Homo sapiens: one gene and its partners. The protein of the gene in region 3 purifies or fractionates together with the protein of the main gene of each other region. This does not show direct contact. Each region holds a gene or a part of one and is shown on either strand. Other genes may lie near its edges. The genes, in order: COL3A1, GRPEL2, TIMM44, OAT and FAM98B.

What was found.
Region 1: the proteins of TIMM44 (region 3) and COL3A1 purify together in Homo sapiens (affinity purification with mass spectrometry; one large-scale study listed by BioGRID and IntAct). This does not show direct contact.
Region 2: the proteins of TIMM44 (region 3) and GRPEL2 fractionate together in Homo sapiens (co-fractionation; one large-scale study listed by BioGRID). This does not show direct contact.
Region 4: the proteins of TIMM44 (region 3) and OAT fractionate together in Homo sapiens (co-fractionation; one large-scale study listed by BioGRID). This does not show direct contact.
Region 5: the proteins of TIMM44 (region 3) and FAM98B fractionate together in Homo sapiens (co-fractionation; one large-scale study listed by BioGRID). This does not show direct contact.

The regions. Positions count from the first base shown.
Region 1 is NC_000002.12:188,998,367-189,001,883, forward strand, and holds part of COL3A1 (collagen alpha-1(III) chain preproprotein), read left to right. Parts: intron 1-307; coding exon 308-352; intron 353-918; coding exon 919-1,017; intron 1,018-1,103; coding exon 1,104-1,211; intron 1,212-1,475; coding exon 1,476-1,529; intron 1,530-3,030; coding exon 3,031-3,084; intron 3,085-3,169; coding exon 3,170-3,223; intron 3,224-3,517. UniProt on the Homo sapiens protein: Collagen type III occurs in most soft connective tissues along with type I collagen. Involved in regulation of cortical development.
Region 2 is NC_000005.10:149,344,176-149,348,304, forward strand, and holds the start of GRPEL2 (grpE protein homolog 2, mitochondrial precursor), read left to right. Parts: upstream 1-1,323; 5' UTR 1,324-1,364; coding exon 1,365-1,441; intron 1,442-3,940; exon of another isoform or gene 3,941-4,096; coding exon 4,097-4,129. UniProt on the Homo sapiens protein: Essential component of the PAM complex, a complex required for the translocation of transit peptide-containing proteins from the inner membrane into the mitochondrial matrix in an ATP-dependent manner.
Region 3 is NC_000019.10:7,933,657-7,937,173, forward strand, and holds part of TIMM44 (mitochondrial import inner membrane translocase subunit TIM44), read right to left. Parts: intron 1,490-3,517; coding exon 1,409-1,489; intron 583-1,408; coding exon 433-582; intron 348-432; coding exon 208-347; intron 1-207. UniProt on the Homo sapiens protein: Essential component of the PAM complex, a complex required for the translocation of transit peptide-containing proteins from the inner membrane into the mitochondrial matrix in an ATP-dependent manner.
Region 4 is NC_000010.11:124,412,417-124,415,933, reverse strand, and holds part of OAT (ornithine aminotransferase, mitochondrial isoform 1 precursor), read left to right. Parts: intron 1-861; exon of another isoform or gene 862-981; intron 982-1,501; exon of another isoform or gene 1,502-1,816; intron 1,817-3,517. UniProt on the Homo sapiens protein: Catalyzes the reversible interconversion of L-ornithine and 2-oxoglutarate to L-glutamate semialdehyde and L-glutamate.
Region 5 is NC_000015.10:38,464,115-38,467,631, forward strand, and holds part of FAM98B (protein FAM98B), read left to right. Parts: coding exon 1-63; intron 64-1,154; coding exon 1,155-1,289; intron 1,290-3,517. UniProt on the Homo sapiens protein: Positively stimulates PRMT1-induced protein arginine dimethylated arginine methylation.

The DNA of each region.
Region 1 (3,517 bases), on a different chromosome or scaffold from region 3:
ACTGTTTGTTTGTCAACTATTAACTTCTTAATTTTCTTATGCCATGATATTTGAGATTTAACATTTAGTTTTGAAATATTATCAAAACAAAGACAAATTATTTAAAAGATAACTATTATATAGAGTTTGAATTTTACCATAAAATAGAGAGTTCATAGTTTCAAGATTTGAAAAATTATACAGTATGCCAACATGACAAATGTGTATTTTGCTTATATTTACATATTTGCTTATATTTACATATTTGCTTATATTTACATAAAATGCACTCTGATATGGGCCTAATCATATAATGCCAATCTCCCAGGGTCCAAAGGGTGATGCCGGTGCACCTGGAGCTCCAGGAGGCAAGGTAGTATTTCAATTTATTCTCTACCTTCTTCAGCAGGTTATAGAGCAATTGATTAGTAGTATATTTTTAGTATATCAAGCCAAAATACTCTTTCTTTAAAAGAGCATCATTGCAAATGTTTGGTAAGTACACTTAGAGAAACTCAAGACACTTTCAATACATTAAATTTGCTTTAATCTGGAAGGTCCAATTCTCTGACATTCATAATCACTACAGAATCAAATACGGGCTTAAAATTTCAAACGGAAAAATATTGCCAATATGTTGATTCTATGTAGGAAAACTGTTTTGGTAAAAAGAACTTTAAAATGTTGCTCTTGTGAATAAAATAATAAGTATTTCAATGACAGCTCACACTTAACCAGACTAAGTATCCAAGTTTTATTTTAGACACTCTTTTAAGCTTCTAGTTCCCACCCAGCTGTTCAACTATTTTTAAGTATACAAATTTCTAGATTGTTCACAATATAATAACCTAGTGGCCTGATTCAAAATGATGCAAGTTAAGGTGCTTTGTTTTTAGCTTTGGGTTGTCTAATATGGTTATTTACATATTTTTGTCACAGGGTGATGCTGGTGCCCCTGGTGAACGTGGACCTCCTGGATTGGCAGGGGCCCCAGGACTTAGAGGTGGAGCTGGTCCCCCTGGTCCCGAAGGAGGAAAGGTAACTCCACAGCATTCCATTCACCTAGGTTTAAAAAATGCATTTGATTTCCTTCTGATCATTTATTATTTCTCACTTATTTTCAGGGTGCTGCTGGTCCTCCTGGGCCACCTGGTGCTGCTGGTACTCCTGGTCTGCAAGGAATGCCTGGAGAAAGAGGAGGTCTTGGAAGTCCTGGTCCAAAGGGTGACAAGGTGTTGACTTGTTTTCTCTTAATTGTTCAATAAATCAGTCATTGTAGGTTTTAAAAAAAGCAACACTCCTGGAAAGTAATCGACTGTATTTTCAAAATTAATGTTATCATTTTATAGTAAGTGAAATTTAAGATGGATTCCTAAAGCAACAATGAATTAGAACACCCAATATATATCCCTACAAATCCTGAGAGTTACTCCTCTTCTTGGCTGATTTTCACTGAAGATACTTTGAATCTGATGACATTGGCTTTTATTTGACAGGGTGAACCAGGCGGTCCAGGTGCTGATGGTGTCCCAGGGAAAGATGGCCCAAGGGTGAGTATTCCCAGTGAGGAGAAGCAGGCCTTATCTATATGTCATATGGGACAGTCCTGCACTTCAACTTTAATTTTTTCCAAAAACTACTCAAGAGAAATTAGATATTTTACCACCTAAAGACCCGAATGACTTGATTTATAATGAAATTTGTGGTCTATATCTATGGCTACTTGATAGATCTACAGTGACTAAAGAATGAAAAAGCCTCAAGAGTACGATAAAGGTCACAAACTAGCATTTGTGAGTCACTAAAATCTGAGATAATCACTGAAATTTAGGATAATCAATGCTGCTCATTAAGAAACTAAAAGTCATCAAAATTCAATATAGTAAGTACTCCTCATTAATAGACTTAATATTTAAAAATTGTATAGTATTTAGCAACAAAAAGGAATGAACAATTGATGCTGTACACACAGCAAATTATACAAACCTCAAGGACAACATACTCAGTGAAGAAAATTCAGTCACCAAGGGATACATACTGCATGATTCCATTCCTACAATATTTGCAAAATAACTTCCTTGTAGAGATGTAGAACAGATTAGTGGTTGCTAGCAGTTAAGAATGAGAAAGAGAGAGATGGATGTGGCTATGGAGACATGACACAAGGGAGTCTTATGGTGATTGCACATTTGAGTATCTTGATTGAGGTGGTAGTCAGGCACATCTACACATGGGATAAAATTCTATAGAGCTACATATACACACACATAAATGAGTGTGTGTATCACTGGTGAAATCTGAACATGCTCTATGGATGGTATCAATGTCAATTTCCTAGTTTTGATATTATATTATAGTTGTGTAAGATGTTAACATTAGGGGACGCTGGGAGAAAAGTGCACAGAATTTCCCTGTATATTCCTTTGCAGCATCCTATGAATCTATAATTCAAACTAAAAGTCAAAAACAAAACAAAAAACATCTCCTAAATATGATTATAATTAAGTCTTTTAATAAATTTATATAATAGTTGCCTTAAAGAAATTCATAAATGCTTCGCTTTTGACAGACTAAGTAGATAAGCCGTCATTCAGGTAAAAAGAGTGCTCAATACTTCAGTTTTGTAATATAAGTAAAACTACTATTTGAAAATTTCAAGTTGAAAAATTTAATATGTACAATGAGACTTTGAGAAAACATTTAAATTATCAAGCAATTGAATAAAGAAATGTACTTTAATTTAAAAAGACATTACTGTAAGATCTTACATGACATCCTATTTATCTTCTACAATGGAGATAAAGATAAATGAATCAATAAACTATTGCTGAATCCTATTTTCTCCCAGAGTTATCCCCAAAGAGGCTTGTGTTTACTGAGCTCTGCAGTATTTACACATTGAGAGAAAAGCATAGCATTCAAGCCATAAAAATTTTTAAAAAGTATGTTATCTAGTTTATTAGGTATCTATGTCTATATACTTTCTGTTTGATTAATGCAAAAAACGATATTTGTATCTTCAAAATTAAAAAATATTTTTATTTCCTCTAGGGTCCTACTGGTCCTATTGGTCCTCCTGGCCCAGCTGGCCAGCCTGGAGATAAGGTAACCCTTAATACTACCTGGATATAAAAAGAAAATGTCTCTCTCTTTTGGATGCAAGACAGTGACATGGCTTCTCTTTTTCCAGGGTGAAGGTGGTGCCCCCGGACTTCCAGGTATAGCTGGACCTCGTGGTAGCCCTGTAAGTGTTAAAGACATTCTCAACATACTTTTTAACCCCATACAGACAGTAGCTACTTATGCTTCCCTTTTTGGCAGTTTTGCCCTCAGTTCCCTGAGCCTCAATTTGGAGATATTATCTTCAAAAACCATATAAGGAACCATATAGCATGCAAGGGAATGTTAAATTTCTTAAATCTAACATTCACAGGAGACCATTTTAAATCAGGATTTCTTTCCTAAATAACTTTGGAAAAAATACATGAATTGCACAAGTAGTACATGTTTGTAATTAGGTATTTCTTAAGCCTATAGA
Region 2 (4,129 bases), on a different chromosome or scaffold from region 3:
AATAAAGGAGGCTGTCTATTACAAACATCAGTAATTGAGAGGGAAGAAATCTGGTCTCTGCTCTTTCCTAGTCATTACAGAACAAGAACAATGAGGAAGAGAATTAAGCTATAATTCTAAGAAGCAGAACTACAAAACATGCTACATGGACTCAGACCACAGCCACATCTCTCTCAAAGCTTCAAGTATTTGGGAGGTTCCAACAGCTTTTAGGTTTTATTTATTTTCACATTCCATTGCAATCAGAATCAGACTAAATTGCATTCAGCAAAAAAGTTTTTTGAAGCCGGGGGCGGTGGCTCATGCCTGTAATCCCAGCACTTTGGAAGGCTGAGGAAGGCAGATCACCTGAGGTCAGGAGTTCAAGCCCAGCCTAACCAACATGGTGAAACCCTGTCTCTACTAAAAATACAAAAATTAGCCGGGTGTAGTGGGCGCCTGTAATCCCAGCTACTGAGGAGGCTGAGGCAGGAGAATCACTTGAACCTGGGAGGCAGAGGTTGCAGTGAGCCGAGATCGTGCCACTGCACTCCAGCCTGGGTGACAGAGTGAGACTCCATCTCAAAAAAAATAATTTTGAACACCTACATTAGGGCACTGCTCAATGGGAATGAATAGACAATATCTCTGCCTTAAAAGAGCTTATATTTTAGTGAGAGGAAATGAGAAAATACACACTATTTAAAAAAACAATTCAGTCGATAAGAAGGGCATTAGAGAAAAAGACTGGGAGGAGTGATGGGCAATGGTTCAGGCTGCGATGTTTTAAACCGCTCACGTGATCTAGCCCTTCCTAACCACCAGTCCTGTTGCCCTCCCGCCTCAGTATATTTCAGTCCCTTACATGCAATACTCTTCTCTCTTTATTAGGCTTCTGCAGATGTTTCCCTCTGCCTGAACCCTTTCTTCAGCTCAGCTCAAATACCCCCTTCCTCTGGGAAAACTTTCCACAAGGCTAGATTTCTATTCTAGGCTTCCGCGACACCTGCCCCTCACCTTCAAACACCGCTCATATTCTGACTTTACATCCCGCTTGTATCTGTTTATCGCTCATAATATCAAGTAAGCTCCATGCGGGCACAGCTATGATCTGCTTTCTTTGCTGCCGACCCTGCGCCCAGCACGGAGACTGTAGTTACTACTAGGACCTCGCCTACCCGCGGAACACACTGAGAGCCGGAAGTGTTGCCTTAGCTCCGGACGACCGGATGGGGAACGGCGCGGCCCATCGGGCAACCGGAAGCATAGCGTTCCTGTCCGGAAGTCCTGAGAGGGAAACGCCCGCAAAGGCTGGTTTTTAAGCGGGAGCATCTCTTCACTCGCAGCAAGTGCGCGTGCGCTGCCTCTCAGCCCAAATTGGAAACATGGCCGTACGGTCGCTGTGGGCGGGCCGGCTGCGGGTGCAGCGCCTACTGGCCTGGAGTGCCGCGTGGGAGAGCAAGTAAGCATTGCAGGCGGGGAGTCGGGAGCGTGAGGACTCTGAGGGGCTAGCGAGCCAGCCGGGGTGGTTGTGGGCTGGAAGGCGAGAGCTATCTGAGCGTAGGCCAGGGGACCAAGCTTCTCGGCCTCTACGACCGTGCACTCACGGCCCCATTTTACAGACGGGGAAACTGAGGCCATCAGCCGTGCCTCTTTCTTAGGCCGAGGAAGGTAAGGAGATCCGAGGTCATGCATGGCCTGGAAGGTGAGAAGTCTCTTAAGCCCCCAAGGGAGGGATGTACCACTCTCCCGGCCTCTTCTCCCAGCCTGTGGTACCTGTGGGTAAATTTGGGTTCTCTCCCCTCACTCCGTGTGACCTAAGGCCAGTCCTTTCTCCGTTATCCGGGCACTGTTGTACCTGTCAGTAAAAGGAGGCCGCTGAACTTGTTTCTCCAAACGGCCATTGCATCAGCCTTCGGAAGACAAGTTCCATCGGCAGCTTTTATTGGTCGCTTACGAGGCCGACTGCAGAATTATGGGTGGTTCTTTTTATTATTACCCATTTAGTAGTTAAGGAAAGTGAGGTTTAGAAAAGTTGAGTAACTTCCAAACTTAAATATTTGGGAAGTGGTGGAACCCGGGCTGGAAACCAGTCAGGGCGTTGGAATCGGCGCTCTTATTTAATGAGCGATGTTAATTAATTTTCTCAGAGACTGTTGCCCCTACACTGTTTCTTCCTGGGATAGAGAATAAAAATAGTTGAGTACGAGGTAGGGTTGGACCTCTGAATAGTAAAGTAAGCTACGGGAGAATCTGGTAAATGTGCTTAACTACATATGTCACCCTTTTTACCTTAACACACCTGACCCAACATCCTACCCTAGCACCTAAGTGAGAGGTTGCATTCAGGGTTTCGGGACTTGGTTTTGCTTACCGTTCTCAAGTCTTTTTGGCAGCTTGTTGGTGATGTAAGGAAATGACCAGAAGAAAAATGGTTCCTTCTGGTAAGCTGTCTCCCTACTCCAGTTCTGAAGCAGTAGGAATTGAGATTGGCCACAACTCCCCAACCCTATTTCTTGGTCTAAGCTTTGGCCATTTTCCCTTTGAACTGGCCCTGAGAATTTTTTTTTTTTTTTTTTTTTTTTTTTTTTTTTTTTTTTTGAGACGGAGTCTCACTCTGTCGCCCAGGCTGGAGTGCAGTGGCACAATCTCGGCTCACTGCAAGCTCCGCCTCCCGGGTTCACGCCATTCTCCTGCCTCAGCCTCCCGAGTAGCTGGGACTACAGGCGCCCGCCACTACGCCCAGCTAATTTTTTGTATTTTTAGTAGAGACGGGGTTTCACCGTGGTCTCGATCTCCTGACCTCGTGATCCGCACGCCTCGGCCTCCCAAAGTGCTGGGATTACAGGCGTGAGCCACCGCGCCCGGCCCCTGAGAATATTTTGACCTGCTTTTTCAAGTGGATAAATGTGGTTTTTTTAGGGAGAAGATGTTTCACCGTGTGTAATTAGCCCCAGATCTACGGTGACCATATTTTCTGACCCCAAAATGTGGAACTGTCTATAAAATCACACACCGGATTATAATAATTGAATTTAAGATCAGCTTGGAAAGTAGGAGAGATAAAAGTCCTCTTGCTTACACCTTTAAACTAGCTATTTGCTCTGCCCAGGATGCTCTTCCCTTTTCTAAAGCTGACTCCTTTACCCTCTTTAAGCCTTTGCTCAGCTGTCTCCGTGAGGACCACTCTACAGTATATGCCAGTCCATAAAAATTGTTTTAAAGAACTCATGTACTCACAGATTGATTTTCAAGATAATTTTACTTACAGTCAAATTACGAAGATCCAGGAGTTGCAGTGGAAACTTCCTTGAACTGGGCCAGGTCAGGACTGCCACAGCCCAAGATTTGCTGTAAACTAGCCCCTAGTCTAAATTTATTTCTGTGTAAACTGAACTAAATGTCAAAACAGTTTAGCTGTACAAAATTCTAGATTACATAACTAGTTGAATGCAAAGATCTATTTTCACCTGTGTCTATTCACCGGCAGTAACATATAGTATTGTATAAGTATTTCATTGACTTGATCTTATTTATAGGTGGGAATTTCTTTCTCAGCACAGGTCTCCTAAAAGCCTTACAGGTTGTGGTGAGGAAGGCTTAGAATTCTAAGCCTTAAGGTCCCTTTACTGGACTTAATTTCCCTCATCTGTAAGTTAGAAGGTTGAACCAGAACTATATGACTTTTTGAATGCCCACTTCTGACAATGCTCCTCTGGTTCTGGGTACTAGCATTTGGTTTCCTTATGCTGACTTTTGTATACCCAGTTCTGGCTATTTCTGCTGCCTGGTTCTTAGTGTCCTGACCCAGCGGAATACCAACTATGTGATCTTGAGCAGGCCATTATGCCTTAAGCCTCTCAGCATCAGTTTTCTCATCTGTAAAATAGGGATAATGATAGGACTTATCTCACATATTGTTGTGAGAGGAAAAGATGACTCAAGTAAAACAGTGTCTGGTACATGGTAAGGACTTCGTAAGTGTTCATTTGTTACTATAACTGAAAACACTTTCTCCAGAGATTCCATCTGGGAAGATCTCTGGTCTCTAAACTTGGTTGTAATTTTGGCTTATGATGGCATTTCTTCATTATGTGCCACCTCCTTCCTGTTTTAGGGGATGGCCGCTTCCATTCAGCACTGCCACCCA
Region 3 (3,517 bases):
GACAGCAGGCAGCTGAGACCTCAAACCTAGGGGCTCTGAGGACCCCGCCCTCACCTCTCACCCTCAAATTCGAGGGAGCCGGGAACCTTGGGCAGAAGGCAAACTCAAGAAACGGACTCAGGAGGGAACCATTGGTGGGCTCCCGAAATGGACAGCAGTGAAAGCTGCCCAAAATGGGGGCAGCGAGGGCCACGGGCTGGTACCTACTCGTTTGGCTCAAACACTTTCTCCTCCTTGAACTTATCTCCCGCAAACTCCGTTCTCTTCCGGAGTCGCTGGGGCCTCCGGTAGGGCCCGGTCTGTCCCAGGACGCTGTCGTCAATTTCCTTCTTCACGGACTCCACCCCCTGCGAGGGAGGCACAGCGGGGCTGGGGTGGGTGTCTGGGTTCGGCCGCCCCAGGCTGCATGCCCTAGCCCAGGACTGGGCTCACCTGGGAGAGGGCTCTGAAGGCCGCTGTCCTGCCCAGCTTCTCCCCGCCTTTGGATACCGACTCGGCCGACTGCTTGGCCGTCTTGGCTGCTTCCTCCACGCCCTCCTTGATTTTCCGGCCGAGATCACTTTTACTGACTTCGTGAAGGCTCTACTGAGACAGACACAGAGAGGGGGCGTTGGCACCGGCCCTGGCGGCCGGGGGGCGGGGCAGGAGGAATGAATTCCTGCCGGAGAGAAGGGCGGATCTGGTTCCCCGAGGCCGGCAGAGGCCTTCTGTGCTCCTGTGGTACGCGGCACCCCCAGAGCCATGAGCACAACGGCACCCCCAGAGCCACGAGCACACCGCCACCCCCAGAGCCACGAGCACACCGGCACCCCCAGAGCCATGAGCACACCGGCACCCCCAGAGCCATGAGCACACCGCCACGGCTTCCGGGATGCTGGCCCTGGGCTCTGGGTGAGACGCTGGGTCTGCTGGCCCCTTTCCAAAATGGGCAGGAGTCCTCTGGAGACCCGGGAACTGCCTGGCAGCAAGGATTCCCAAGGAGGGGACCCCGGGGAAAGAACGGCGGTGAGGGCGCCCCATGCTGCGCAAAGCTGGACAGAACAGACAACCGAGGAGAGCCGCAGCACCCCAGGAATCCTGCCTCCCGCCTCTACCCTCGGGAGGGGGTGGAAGCGGCCCCTCTCCTCCTATTTTTAGGCAGGAAAAACATTTTCATGTTCTCCTCGAGTCCTGGCTAGCAGCACTTACTGCTGCCGACTCCCTGGGTCAACGGTCATGCAAGGTTGCCAGTCTGACCTCACCCTGCATGTGCCGGGAACTCCTGAAACCTTCCCGAGGGTGGCAGCACGCCCCATGCCACCCACTGCTGCCAAGCCACCCCCACCCAGGAGCCGACTCTTCCTCCAGCCTCCAGCGGCCAGGGGACTTTGATGGCCCCAGCGGCTCCAGGCGGGCGTGGAACTGTTACCTCCTTCACGGTGCCCGTCAGCTCCCCAAGCTTCTTCCGTAGCACCTCGCTCGTCCGCACGGTTTCTGACTCGATGGTTTTCTAGGTAAAGAGCGCTGTGTCCTTTTTTTTTTTTTTTTTTTTGAGACAATGTCTCCGTTGCCGAGGCTGGAGTACAGTGGCACGCTCTCGGCTCACTGCAACTTCCTCCTGCCAGATTCAAGCGATTTTCCTGCCCCAGCCTCCCGAGTAGCTGGGACTACAGGGCCCACCACCATGCCTGGCTAATTTTTGTATTTTCAGTAGAGACAGGGTTTTACCACGTTGGCCAGGCTGGTCTCAAACTTCTGACCTCAAGTGATCCACCCGCCTCGGCCTCCCAAAGTGCTGGGATTATAGGTGTGAGCCACTGTGCCTGGCCAACCGTTGTGTCTTTAAGTCTGTATGTTCTGACACGGCAGTGACATTTCTCTTACAGCCAAAGGTCCAAGAAGCATCTTCTCCGCAGCCCCTCCCTCCCCGCACCTGCCAGCATGTGCTGCCTCCAGGGCCCCCGGCTGCCCACATGGCTTGGATTGAGGGTCTCAGCAGCGGTGAGCTCCTTGCTCAGAAGGCCGGCAGACTCGGGTCCCCGCTTGGCAGCTACCTCCTGAGAACAGGAGGCCCAGCCTTCACCTTTCACCGGGTGGTAGGAGGTGGCCTTGCCTGTCATCACTGTGCCCCTCATCCAGCCTCCAGCCACCACAGCTTGGTCTTATGTCTCCCGCTCCATCCATCCCACTCCAAACTCAGCCTGCTATGTCTTCAGATGACCCCTGCATTAATGATAAAGAGGGGCTGGGCATGTGAGCTGTAGTCCCAGCTCTTTGGGAAGCTGAGATGGGAGGATCGCTTGAGCCCAGAGAGTTCGAGACCAGCACAGGCAACATGGCGAGACCCTGTCTCTAGAAATATAAAAAAATTAGCCAGGCGTGGTATCCCATGCCTTTAGTCACAGCTACTCAGGAGGCTGAGGTGGGAGAATCACCTGAACATGGGAAGGTCAAAACTGCAGTGAGCTGTGATCACACCACTGCACTCCAGCCAGGGTGACAGAGCAAGACCCTGTCTCAAAAAACCAAACTAGGCTGGGCACGGTGGCTCATGCCTGTAATCCCAGCACTCTGGGAGGCCAAGGCGGATGGATCACCTGAGGTCAGGAGTTCAACACCAGCCTGGCCAAAGTGATGAAACCCCGTCTCCACTAAAAATACAAAAATTAGCCTGGCGTGGTGGTGGGCGCCTATAATTCCAGCTATTTGGAAGGCTGAGGCAGGAGAATCGCTTGAACCCAGGGAGGCGGAGGTTGCAGTGAGCCGAGATCGCACCATTGCACTCCAGCCTGGCTGACAGAGCAAGACTCCATCTCAAAGGAGAAAAACAAAAAACGAACAAACAAAAAAACACAAATGAAACCAAACCAAACCAAAATGCAAGGGACCCGTGGCAGGTGCCTGCATCTCTGAGGCTCAGCTGCTCATTGGTAAAATGGGGACACTGTAACTGCCTCGCAGGGCCCTTACAAATAAAGGAATGCAGAGCCATTCCCAGAAGCCAGGGCTTGGCAGCTGCTCAAGAAGAGAAGTGACAATTAATAATGACAGGCTGGGAGCAGTGGCTCACACCTGTAATCCCAGCACTTTGGGAAGCTGAGACGGGCAGATCACTTGAGGCCAGGAGTTTGAGACCAGCCTGGCCAACATGGTGAAACCCCGTCTCTATAAAAAGATATATAGGGCTGGGCGCACTGGCTCACACCTGTAATCTCAGCACTTTGGAAGGCCAAGGCAGGTGGATCATTTGAGGTCAGGAGTTCAAGGCCAGCCTGGCCAACATGGTGAAACCCTGTCTTTACTAAAAATACAAAAATTAGCTGGGCAGTAGTGGTGTGTGTCTGTAATCCCAGCTACTCGGGAGGCTGAGGCAGGAGAATCGCTTGAGCCTAGGAGGCAGAGGTTGTGTTGAGCCAAAATCGTACCACTGCACTCCAGCCTGGGCAATGGAGTAAGACTCTGCTTCAAAAAACAACAACAACAACAACAACAAATCAGCTGGGTGTGGTGGCGGGCGCCTGTAATCCCAGCTATCCGG
Region 4 (3,517 bases), on a different chromosome or scaffold from region 3:
AAACAGTTTTAAAAATAAATCATGGCACTGTTGATTCTGATATTTCAGAAACTGGCTAGTTTTAAGGGCAAAAGGGAACTGAGTGGCCATTTTGTGCTGGATTTGGCACAGTAACATTAACCCATTTCATCCTCAGTGACACTTCAACCTCCTTTTACAAATGGGGAGACTGAAGCTCAGAAAGATTGACAGAATCACCCAGAGTTACTCTTCAGAACCACAGACAGAATTTAAAATCCCGGTCTCCAAACTCGGGATTTTCCGCTTGATTCTCCCGGTTTTGAAACCTTTTTGGAAGAGGCTGTTATTGATGTTGGCTATTTTTAAGTCCATCTTAATTCTGCTCTAAGATTTCTCATACAGTGCCAAGCACAGTAACTTGAACACAGAAGGTTCTTTAATAGAAATGCGTTTACAGGATTTTGATACATCATGGCTCATCCAGTTTCTGACCTTTCCCAGTTGAATTAAATATCCAGAATTCATCTTAAAAACCTTAAGAATAGCTGACTCAGGGGTGTGTGCCTGTAGTCCCACCTCTTCCTGAGGCTGAGGCAGAAGGATCCCTTGAGCCCAGGTGTTCGAGGCCAACCTGGGCAACATAGCTGAGACTCCATCTGTAAGTGAAAAGAAACAAAAACCTTAAGAATGAGTATTAGTAATGTTTTGAATGATATTATTTTGTCCCCAGTTATTCTTTAATAAAACTGCCTAAACTTAACAGGTAAATGAATTTTTCATCCCATTTCTGTTGGAAATTAGCTGTGCAGATAACTTTTATATAAAATAAGAATGTTGAATTTAGATAATCTCTGATATTCCTTTTTTTTTTTTTTTTTTTTTTTTTTTTTTTTTTTTTAGCGCTTTGTAGCCCAGGCTGGAGTGCTGGTGGCACAGATCGTGGCTCACTGCAGCCCAGAACTCAGGGCTCAAGAGATCTTTCCACCTTAGTCTTAGTCTCCTAAGTACCAGATACTACAGGTACGCATCGCCACACCTGGCTAATATTCATATTTTTTATAGAGATGGGGTCTCCCTATGTTGCCCAGGTTGATCTTTAACTCCTGGGCTCAAGTGATCTGCCTTGGCCTCCCAAAGCGCTGGGATTATAGGCGTGAGCCACCTTGCCTGGCCCTAGAAAGTTGTTACGGTTTAGAGCACCACTAAGTATTGCCTGAGTGTTTTACTGCTAATTTGATAGGCAAAAATTAATGTTCTAATTTTTTAGTTGATCAAACAATTTATTCATACTGAGTAAAGCATAAAGAGTCCAAGAAAGAAATCATACATGAGTGTTTTAGACTTAGCAGTAGTATTTTGGGGAAGTTACATATAGTACAGTTAGACATTTTTGCTAGCAGCTACCTCCAGTTGGATGATTCTTACATCACTTTTGTTTTGATTGTTGGTACCCACCCCTTTGAGATAAAGTCTGATGAAAGTTATGGACCTTCTTCTTGGAAAAATATACGTCTGCATGTAATTCTGCATTTTATTTCAGGAGATTTTGGACTCTCTGCAGACTGTCCCTGGATCTTGGGTTAAAAATCTGTATTCTAGACTGAACCGTGGGAAGAAAAAATAGTCAGTGAGTCTTTGGCAAACCGGAGTACTGGATTTTGTTTAGCAATTGCAAATTCCTGAACATACTGGATTTACTGGGTAGTGCCAAGTTTAAAGGGAAGTAAGCCAAACTCCAAGTATTATGTTTTGCTAATTTGGCAGCTCGAATCAAGAGTGGCTGTGAGATTATACATGGTTTGACTTGTCATTGGTAGACTTCTGTTGAAACATGAATTAACTAGTCTTTTAGAAAGTAAGTATAGATGGAATAAGTATGCCTAGTTTTTGGCAACTTTCTCCTAATCATGAATTTATCTTTAAGCTTTTTTTTTTTTTTTCCTTCCAGAGGTGATTCCTATGCACATGCTCTAATTTCCTTTTAATTATTAGTTTCTTTCATAGCTTAGTTTTTACTTCATGGCTTATCAGGATGCTTAATGGTAAATTGGGTACAAAGAGGTGTGTGAAGCCTTGTGGAGGGGCTAGTTTTAGGGCTGGGGGTGACTGGGGAGAGTAGCTATGGCTCTGACTTATGTGATGGGGCGGCAGGGTAAACACCAGCCTGCTCAGTGATGTTTAGACTTTAACACTCATACAAGTAACGGATTGTAGTTTGTAGTTTGACTCTCTCTAGTTTCTCAGTTACCTTTTGCTAACAATAGCTTTTTCGTTTGTTTGTTTGTTTTTTGAGACGGAGTTTCACTCTTGTTGCTCAGGCTGGAGTGCAATGCGCAGTCTTGGCTCACTGCAGCCTCGTCCTCCCAAGTTCAAGCGATTCTCCTGCCTTAGCCTCCTGAGTCGCTGGGATTACAGGCATGCACCACCACGCCTGGCTAATTTTGTATTTTCAGTAGAGACGGGGTTTCTCCATGTTGGTCAGGCTGGTCTCGAACTCCCGATTCAGGTGATCGCCTGCCTCTGCCACCCAAAGTGCTGGGATTATAGGCATGAGTCACCGCACCTGGTCAACAATATCTTTTATGCTACAATTTTTCAGGATAAGTTTTGTAGAAACAACCATCCTAGCAGAATAGATTGTTTTGTTTGGGAATCTCATATATGTGTGTGTGTGTGTGTGTGTGTGTGTGTGTGTGTGTGTGTGTATGTATTTATGTATGTATGTATATGTTGGTCTAATTCAACTTGCTGTGAACACTTTAAAGCTATTATAAGTTAACATTTTTTTCCTAGTCTTTTTGCCTTTCACCTTTGTTTATGATAAATTTGACCTACAGAAGTTTTAGATATTTGTGGCTAAATAAAAGATTTTAGGCTGGGCACAGTGGCTCACACCTTTAATTCGAAAACTTTGGGAGGCCGTGGTGGGCGGACTGCTTGAGCCCAGAGGGATGGACAGTTCCTCTGTCTCCTGCCCCATGCCTAGTCTCTGGCAGTCTTCTCTGATTTGGTCTCCCTGCCTCTGGTCTCTGCCCTACAGTTGTAGCTGTCTCATAGCATTGTGCCTGATGGTATCGGACTGTGGTAGGTGCTTAACAAATACTTAGTGTTTAGCAGGTACTCAGTCAACACACAGTGCATTAGCTCTGGAAAGAGTCTTACTCTTATTGATTGGTTGGTTGATTGATTGCCTGATTGACAGGGTATCACTCTGTTGCCCAGGCTGGCCTCAAACTCTTGGGCTCAAGTGATCCTCCCGCCTCAGCCTCCTGAGCAGCTGGGGGCTACAGGCACAAACCACCACACCTGACTCAAGATTCTCACTCTTTTTTTTTCTTTTATAGAGACTATGTTGCCTAGGCTGGTCTTTAACTCCTCGGCTCAAGCGATCCTCCCATCTTGGCCTCCCAAGGTGCTGGAATTACAGATGTGAGCTATCACGCCTGGCCATTTTTTTTTTCTTGAGACTGGGCCTTTCTTTGTCTCCCAGGTTGGAGTACAGTGGCACAATCTCAGCTCACTGCAGCCTCAACTTCCGGGCTCAAGCAATCCTCCC
Region 5 (3,517 bases), on a different chromosome or scaffold from region 3:
GTATTTGGTTAGGCTCTCAAATAAAATCATTATGCAACTTGGAAGAAAGTATCACGTCTGCTGGTATTGCCATTATGTTGTATTTACTTTTCTGTTTAATAGTAAACTGATAACTTACGGTTTATAGTTTTATCAATAATGTGCCCACTGTACAAAGAAAAATCACATATTCCAAAGAATTTCAGTATGTGGTAGTAAACATTTTTGGATTAAATTTTATATTAATCCAGAATTGATATTTAAATTTGCTATAAAACTATAAGCAATTACTATTTATCTGCTATTTTTTTCTCTTCCTGACGGCTCTGATATCTGCTGTCTAAACCTTAGTATTGTTTTTTAGAAAAAGTAGGGTCTGAATTTGATTATTTAAAAGTTTAATTTTTGAATGGTGCTCATGTTGAATTAAGGCTTAAAATATTATATATATATAATTCCTAATTTGTGTTCTGAAGCTTGTAGCTCAGGATATGGATTCACATAGGAATACTTCTATTAAAAACTTCTGTACTAGCTCATAAAGCTTCTTTAGTTCATTACCATCTTAGTAACTGGAGTCCTGTGGGTCTTTGGTAGAATTTCGGATATTAATAGTATAATAAAAAGAAAAATTAAAAATTGTGCATTCACAAAAGTAGCTTTTTCTTTGAAAAGTATCCTTTTTTTCTTAAGAGATGGGGTCTTGTTATGTTGCACAGACTGGACTTGAACTCCTGGGCTCAAGCAACCCTCTCACCCCACCCTCCCAAGTAGTTGAAACTGCAGGTGTGGGCTACCGCACCCAGCCAGATCTAACAGTTCACTTGACGCAAAGTAAACTAATTTGAATTCTAAACATATAACACGACTGCCTACATAATTACATTATGAAATAAAGATAAGCAGTGAGGGTTAATTAGATGGTTGCATTTATTTTCTGAATATATAGAAATATAGTAGAAATGGATCATTTGCTCTGAAGTGAATTAATAATTATAGCCATAATAATGCTTTTACTATTTCAGTTGTTAACGTAAGCTTCGTGATCACACATTTAAGGATTTAATGTGAAAATTTAGAATTGAATGTAAAATGGAAATAAACGAGTAGATTTTATAGTATTGGATTATATGGTAAATGCTCAGTAAATGTTTTATGATTTTTCTTTTTTAAAGGAAGAGATGATCTAGAGAGCTTCCAGCTTGAGATAAGTGGCTTTTTAAAAGAAATGGCATGTCCATATTCTGTACTCATATCAGGAGATATTAAAGATCGTTTAAAAAAGAAGGAGGACTGTTTGAAACTTCTATGTAAGTTATCTTGAACATTTAAATGCATGTGTTTGACATGGTTTTTATTATTTTCAAGTCAAGATTTATTAATGAAGCATTAGACATTTTGTATATTAAAAGGGTTTTAATATTTTACTTAAAATACAAAGCTATCTCAGAAATGTTTATATAATATAGTATAAATTTTACCAGTATGCCTTCTAACACTTGTGATTTATTTGGCCAATATAGAATGTCCTGTGTTTGTGATTTATATAGTACTTTAGTAATTTTTCCTTTATCTCATTCTATCTGTTATTGTTCGTGACTATATGGCTAACATTGATGATCTCCAAAGTCCTATTTAATCTAAAAACTCTCTGAAACTAGGCACTGGATGATAATTTGTTGATCACTTACTCTAACACCAAGAACTGCTCTGGATACTAGGGATATATGAGGGTTGCTTGTTTTGTTTTTTTTTAAAAAATATAAAATTTGTGCCTTTAGGACACTTTAAATGTGGCCAGTTTCATCAGGGAGGGATTTGGAATATAGGTCATACTGTATTCAAACAATTACCATAAATAGTAGGTCCATGTTTGTGTTGGGTTCCTTTCATCATTTTTTTACTTTAGGCTAATTTTATAATGTTTTTAAAGTTCTACAAACAATGACTATTTGAAAGAATTTTTCTAATACCTTCTATTATTGAAGATTTCTATTTCAGATCATGCCATTTATAAAAAGATTACACGTGACATATTCCTCCTAGGCGCTAGTGTTTTAATAAAGTTTGTTTCATTAGAGATGAAATTTGTGTGTGTGTGTGTGTGTGTGTGTGTGTGTGTGTGTTTAGTGGTGACAAAAGTATTGGCATTGAAATTACCTTGTGTGTGTTGAGTGGGGATAAAAATTATATGCCCTCTCTCTCCATCCCAATACACCATTCTCCATCTTCCTCCCATTTGGTGTGAGTCACTGATTTAATGAACCACTGTTATTGGGAGATCACAGTAACTCTTAGGTATATTGGGACAGAAAGGAACCTAGGAAACACCGGCTAGAGGAACTTGCATATCCTTAATATCAGTCAATGAGAATTATGTAATCCATCATGGTTCCCTTTCTCCTTAGCTGCTAAGAAGCTTAGCAATTGTAGTGATACAGGTTTCTGGTACAAGTAGGAATAAAAAAGAAATTTAACAGAAATATATAGTTTTTTTCTGATTATAAAAATAACATGTTCAGGAGGGCGGTGATGAGGAGTTAGTGTTTAATGGGTACAGAGTTTCAGTGAGGAAGACGAAAAAGTTCTGAAGATGGATGGTGACGTCATAGAACTGTATACTTAAAAATGATTAAAATGGTAAATTTTATATGTGCAAAAATTACATGCTTATCATAGAAATCTTAGAAAATACATAAAACATAAAGAAGAAAAGCATTTATAATCTCACTCCCTAGAGAGAATATTGTGTCTCTGTTTTCTGTGTACATACACACAACACTCTCACACTCGCACTCACTCTTAAATAAGATTAAGATCCTGTTTCAGATCCTTCTCCTCCTCCTCTTCATTTGATGTGTCGTTTTTCTCTTTATTTCCCTATCACTTGTTTTTTGAAAAACTAAATTGGCTCTGCTATTGACATAACATTATGTGTAATAGATTTCAAATTTGGAGGTATTTGGATTTTTTTCTATTTTAAAATGATTTCCTTGTTTATATTTTTGCTTACTTAGACAAAGATTAGGAACATTTAAAATAGTCTCCGGTCTAGATGTATATTGCCATATTTTGCTCCAGAAAGGTTATACTAGTTCACAGTCTTACCAGCATCTAGTCTTTCTTCAGTTTGACTGTTTTAATCATATTGATATAATAAGCTTCTTCATGTTCTTTTTGAAAGTGTTTGCAACATGTATAAAATTAAAAGGGCCAAATCCTGTACTATGTAAAGAGCTTTTATAAATCAACAGGAAAAAGATAAAAATCCACTGGGAAAATGTGTAAAATACATAAGACATGAACACGCATTCTACAGAAAATTTTTTTTTAACTGCTTCTAAGCATGACAAGATGCACAATATCACTTATGACAGGATACCATTTTTCACTCAAAAAATCATAATAGAAGTTTGGGGGAGTAAGCCTTTTCGTATACTACAGACATTAGACTGTGGTGGGAGAATAACTTGTACAGCCTCTTAGGAGGACACATTTTCAATGTCACATTAAAATTCACTTGGCTTTTGGACTTGGC